Linked DNA regions of Homo sapiens: region 1 is linked to region 2. The links come from fine-mapping of genetic effects on gene expression. A gene starts in region 2. The other region holds a variant in brackets. All regions are shown on one strand. Distances are from middle to middle.

The links. PIP is the estimated chance that this variant, and not a neighbour inherited with it, causes the effect.
Region 1: its variant is fine-mapped to the expression of TREM2 in blood mononuclear cells (TOPMed, PIP 0.98).

Annotation. Positions count from the first base shown.
Region 1 is chr6:41,183,625-41,186,531 of GRCh38, reverse strand. It overlaps LOC107986595 (a long non-coding RNA gene), which reads left to right and starts at 143. Exons shown (of 3, transcript XR_001744118.2): 1 at 143-555. The variant T/C (reference allele first, on the strand shown) is at 1,750.
Region 2 is chr6:41,161,765-41,164,671 of GRCh38, reverse strand. It overlaps TREM2 (triggering receptor expressed on myeloid cells 2), which reads left to right and starts at 1,556. Exons shown (of 5, transcript NM_018965.4): 1 at 1,556-1,629. The coding sequence starts at 1,590.

The sequences.
Region 1 (2,907 bases), 22 kb before region 2:
AATGGGTCTTCAGGTTCTAGTCAGACCTCCAAAAGGCTCCCTAACACTGTCACTCACCTTCAGCCTGTGTGTTAGCTGGGTGAGGAAGAGAAACTTCAGGCTGGGGAGGAAGTGGTAGAATAGAGGGGAGAGAGGAGAAAGAGGTTTTTATTTCGCCATAGTTTCCTCCTGGACTTTCTCAGCTTTTCCCACCCCAGCGCCAGTGGGAGGGAGGTGGCCTGACAAGTGGGAAGAGGCTGGGGCCAGAGGAAACCAGCAGGAGCTACAGAGTATAGGCTGAGGCCTTTCCAGGCCCGGATGTAGAGCCTGCAGCTGGAGGGGCTCGTGTAGGCCAAGGCGTCCCCCTTCCTTCCAGGCCTCCTGCTTCCTCAAGGGAGACTTTGACTTCCTCAGCAATTCATCCCCAGGGCCGGATCCTGCCAGCGCTGGTTCCCGCTCCCCAGGGTTTCCCCGCTGCCTCACTTTCCTCCCACCATCCCGGCTCAAGAAGAGGACCCATGACCTTGGAGGCCACACACCTGCTGTTGAGAGTTCTGCTGGTGCTCCTGGCCTCAGGTGAGGGGAAGGGGAGCAGGGCCAAGGGAGGGGGACAGGAACCTTTTTCTTACAGGGTTGTTGTGAAGATTCAAGGAAAATACGGACTTGAAGGGCCCAGTTCAATTCATAGCACATGACCAGGGCTGTTTCTTTCACCTCTGTCCTCCTTCCAGCCCTTGTCCGTGAGCAGGAGAGCTATTCCAGAGTACTGTGGGTCTAGGGAAAGGGCACACTGTGTAGTTACCACAACCTGTGGCCTGCTTTGTTTTCTACCTCTGCCTGATGGTTTCCAGGCCCCAGCCACGGGCACTGACAGTGTCTTCCTGCCTCTGTCCTCCCCTCCCTTCTCTCCATCCACCATCACTCCAGATGATGAATGCTGGGCTCTTGCAAACCATACTTTCTTGCATCAAGAGATTAAACCAGAAACCAAGGGGTGCTGATCACCTGAGCTGAGAGATGTTCCTGAACTGCTTGTCCTCCCCCTTTGACATCTGACAACCCAGACACCTTCCCTAAAAGCCTGCTATGGTATAAAACAGTCTACCTCTGTGTTCTTCCTTTGACTTAAAATGGGACCTATTAAAATGTATTTTTTATCTGGGAGAGCTATTTGTCAATGACATCAGTATACTCTGAGAGCTCACTGCATTTCCTAGAGAAGGGTTGAGCTTAAGGACCTGAGACAGAAATGTGAAGCAAAGGGTGCCAGGAGAGCTGGGTGGAGACCCTGCAATAGGGGCCCAGATAGAAAGCCAAGGGATAACAATTGCAAAAGGGAAAGAGCAAGGACTTGAGATAGCAGTTTTGCACAGAAAGAAACCGACCCTGAGGTGGAATGGCTTACCCTAGACAACATGGTTTGTGGGGAAGAGCCCCTGATCACATGGCTGCCTACTGGTCAGCTGAGCCGAAGGAGACCTCAGAGGACAGGCTAGAAGCTGGGGAGGGCCTGTGGTGACAACAGGCATGGCAGGAGGGATGAATTTCAGGGCAGGAGGTTGGTCTGGGCTCTGACTTTCCTCATCAGGCGGGTCCTTATTCCAAAGCCCCCCAGTCAAGTCCATCATCCTGGGTGTGGCAGTGACCGTTGTGCTGCTGCTGCTGCTGCTTGCCCTCCTCATCAACCGGTACCTCCAGAAAGCCCGAGGAAGAGCTAGGAAAGTGAGTCCTGGTCACTGGCTCTGAGCAGACAGCCAAGTGCTTAGCGAT[T/C]TCTAGGGCAGCCTGAGAGCCGTGAGGACAAGGATTGTTTTTTTATTTTTTTTATTTTTTATTATTGTACTTTAAGTTCTAGGACACATGTGCACAACGTGCAGGTTTGTTACATATGTATACATGTGCCATGTTGCTGTGCTGCACCCATTAACTCGTCATTTACATTAGGTATATGTCCTAATGCTATCCCTCCCCCTTCTCCCTACCCCACGGCAGGCCCCCGTGTGTGATGTTCCCCACCCTGTGTCCAAGTGTTCTCATTGTTCAATTCCCACCTATAAGTGAGAACATGCGGTATTTGGTTTTCTGTCCTTGTGATAGTTTGCTCAGAATGATGGTTTCCAGCTTCATCCATGTCCCTACAAGGACATGAACTCATCGAGGACAAGGATTCTTATGCTCATTTTACCAACTAGGAAACTGAGGCCTGAGAAGTAAAGTGGCCAAGATCCCCTGGGAGCCCCAAATGGCTTCCCTTCCTTCTGCCAGAGCAACAGCCTGGGCAGCCCTGAGGGCGGTGGACTCATCATCTTCTAAGGCTCCAGGTCAGCTCACCCAAAGCCAATTCAACTCAGTGCCAATTTGTCTACAACTAGGTGTGCTAGTATCCATTTTGGATCATGTATTTTTTGCCAACTTTTAGGTTAAGACTTTTAAAACAAATCTATGTAAAGATGTTCCTGGTTCATGGTATTGTTTTTTAATTGTTTTTATCATTTAAAAATGTCGTCTTCCTAAAAGCACTTCCAGGACTTTTTAATCTTCAAAGTTTTAAGTTTTTAGCATTAATCACATATGAAATCTGTAGCATCTTGTCTAAGATTTATCAGATTAGTCCCCTTTAATGAATGTTACCTCCTTTCTTGCTGTTTTATGTTGGTTGGTTGGTTTGACACATAGGTACTGTGTGCTCAATAGCCCTATACTGAAGATGTTTCTGTTGACAAAAAGACTGAAACGTGGGAGTGGGCCAGAGGTATATTGGACTTCATTGGTTTTAATTATTCAAGCTATGAAAATCCAAAGAAAGCAGTGGGTTGTAAAATTTTATATACCTATTTTTAATCAGTGTAAAATCAATTTAATAGGTCACAACAGGATTTTTATAAAAACATAATAGAAGAGCATAATGTCATAATGCTTTACCCTTTTTTT
Region 2 (2,907 bases):
GACTGGCTAAAATGGGCACAAAGGCTCTCGCTTAAGCTAAATGAAACTTTCTATATTATGGTATTGTGTTACACAGACATGGTGATTGTGGTGGTTGTTATAGAGATGCATGAGTTTGTCAACATTTACACAACTAGACATTTAAAAGGGGTAAATTTTTGTATATGTAAATTATGGGCCAATAAACCTGACTTCTAGAAAAAGACCCTAGAAGAGTACCTACAGAGTGATCTTCAGGCAGCCTCAGACTTCAGCCCCCAGGCCCTTGGGGCAAGGCCGGGCAGTTGGCCCTTTGAGTGGAGGCCTGTCTTCTCCTCACTATGAATTCCCCATCTCCAAGCACATTCCCTGTCCGTAAGTTAGATGCACAGTAAATATGAGTAAATAAATGAATAAAAGAACAAATAAGTGAGTGTTTGCAGGAAACTAAAGTAGACCCTGATAATCTACAGGCTCCTGCAGGCTTCTCCAGCCTCTTCTGCCACTCCCAGCACAACTCCATTTCCCACTCCTAGAATTGACTCAAGCCTCCTCCATCCAATCCCCGACTCACTGGGCCATTTCACACTTTTGTGCCTTTGCACACGTGGGTCCCTGTGCTTGGATCACCATGGGAACCTGTACGTGTAGAAAAACACACCCCTACCCCCAGAACTCTGAGAAATATCCTGTCCTGTCCTGTAGGATAGGATGATCAGGAGTTCAAGCATGTGTGTGCACAAAATAAACACCAGTGTGAGCATGTGTGCACAGGAGACACCCAACAGTTCCAAGAAGGCTAAACTTGGGCAGAAAATTCCAGGTGGGAGAGAAAATTTTCTGTCTTATGGACAGCCCATTTCCCTTTTCCCTTCTAACTAGGATAATGGTAATAGTTAGTATTTGTTGAATGCTGTGTGTCAGGCCCTACTGGAAAGCACTTTACCTGTAGGAACCCATATGGTGCTCCTGATAACCCTTTGCACTATCATTATTCCCACTGTATAGATCAGGGAACAGACACAGGTAGGTTTTGGATGTGTGGTTACACACCCAGAAAGTCAGGAAGTCTGGCTCCAGAGCTGTGTACTTAACTGCTGCCACACTACAGGAATGACAGCCCTGGGGGGATGAACTAAGAGGTGCTGGATGAGGGTCCTGGCCTCTAAAGGCACAGCTGTTCTCCAACTCTTGCAAGGCTGAAACCAGAAGATGGCGGGCATTGCAGCTGGTGGAGGGTCTGAATACAGCTGTGAGGATAGTGATCCCTGGGCTAGGCTCTGCAAGGAAACTGAGCAGTGCAGGGCCTTACCAGCCCCAACCATCTGGGGGCCACCCTGGCTGGCACCAGCAGGAGGGTGGGCTGGCTTCTCAGAGGTCTGGGAGACTCAGCCTCCTTCTGCCAGGGCTGCAGTGGCCGACTCCTCCTCCCCTCTGTCCCCACCCTGCACCGCCTCCAGACCCCAGTCCTGACTATTGCTTAATCCCCAGGAGCCCAGTTCCTGTGGGCAGCGCCTGACATGCCTGATCCTCTCTTTTCTGCAGTTCAAGGGAAAGACGAGATCTTGCACAAGGCACTCTGCTTCTGCCCTTGGCTGGGGAAGGGTGGCATGGAGCCTCTCCGGCTGCTCATCTTACTCTTTGTCACAGGTAGGATCCCCTCCGTGCCCTGTGATGCCTTCTCTCCCTCACTTTGAGCATGTGGTTGGGGCGCGGGTGGTGGGCCCTGGGGTGAATTATGAAGGCGGTGGCAGTCCTCGCATGCCTGAGTGCCCTGTTCTGCACTCCTCTCCTCCCCACCCTGCCCATATTCTTCACACCCTCCTTCCCTCCCCAGTATCAAAACCTACCCTCAGACTCTTTCTGCATGTGGACATGTAAGGGGCTGGTGGACTCTGGTTGCATTGGAAGGGAAGGAGTGCTAACAGTGGCATCCCAGGCACTAGCTGGCAGTTGGGGGAAGCTTTGGGGGGCACTGGCACTGGTAATAGCCTCTGAAATTATAAGCCACTAATTATGAGCCCCTACAGTTATAAAGGAGGAAAGAACCTGAGGATGTTCATCTGCATCTTTGGGGCACTCTCTCCCCTGCTCTGAAGGTCCCCTTGTCCTCAGCTCTTGATGGGAGGTGAGGAGCGTAGAGATTTCCGTTGCTGAGTTGAGGGGAATTGACACACCAAATTTTTGTACACAATTGCTTCTTCCCGCTGAGGAAAGCGCACCTTTTGCTCCCCCAGAGCACTGGACAAACCTGGGCAAGAGGAGAGACGGTGCCAAATGGAGTCTTGTTCCTGCAGCTTCTTAGATGGTGGTCAGGGGGAAGGCGGGGTTCTGAGGCATGGATGGGAGGTGGTCAGATGGGAGAGGGCCACGGCCCATCTGGTCTCTCTAGTTCCAAAAGGCAAGCCACCAACTTCCCAATCCTATCTTTCAAGCCTCTGTCACAGTAATGGTTGAAGATGGCAGGCAAGGGAGGACCAAGAGAGAAGTCAAAGCAGGGGGCTCTGGGGGCTGCCCCAGCAACAGGCTGGTGCTCTAAGCCCATCTCCCCCGCCCTAAGGAGGGTTCCCAAAATAGCAGCCTCATGTCTCCCCCAAAATATCTCCGAGACGGGTCCTTCCTGAAAGGGGAACAAAGCCACAGAAATAGGGAAGCTGGAAGTTAAAGGTCAGGAAAGTCGGTACCAATGTGGGCGGCTGCAGAGCAAGCAAGAGTGGCGGGGCAGGGAGAGCCAGCCCCAGGCCGAGAGGAGAGGTCCCAGTCCCAAATGATGGCAAAGAGATGTGCAGAACAGAACTGGAGGGGGTTTTAAGACCAAGTGCCTCCAGAATAGACCCAGAGAAGGTCAGTTACTTCTCCAAGGAGGCCCAGCAAGAGCAACAGTGAGAAAACCAAACCCAGGTCCCAGGTTTCCTGGTTCCCAATTTC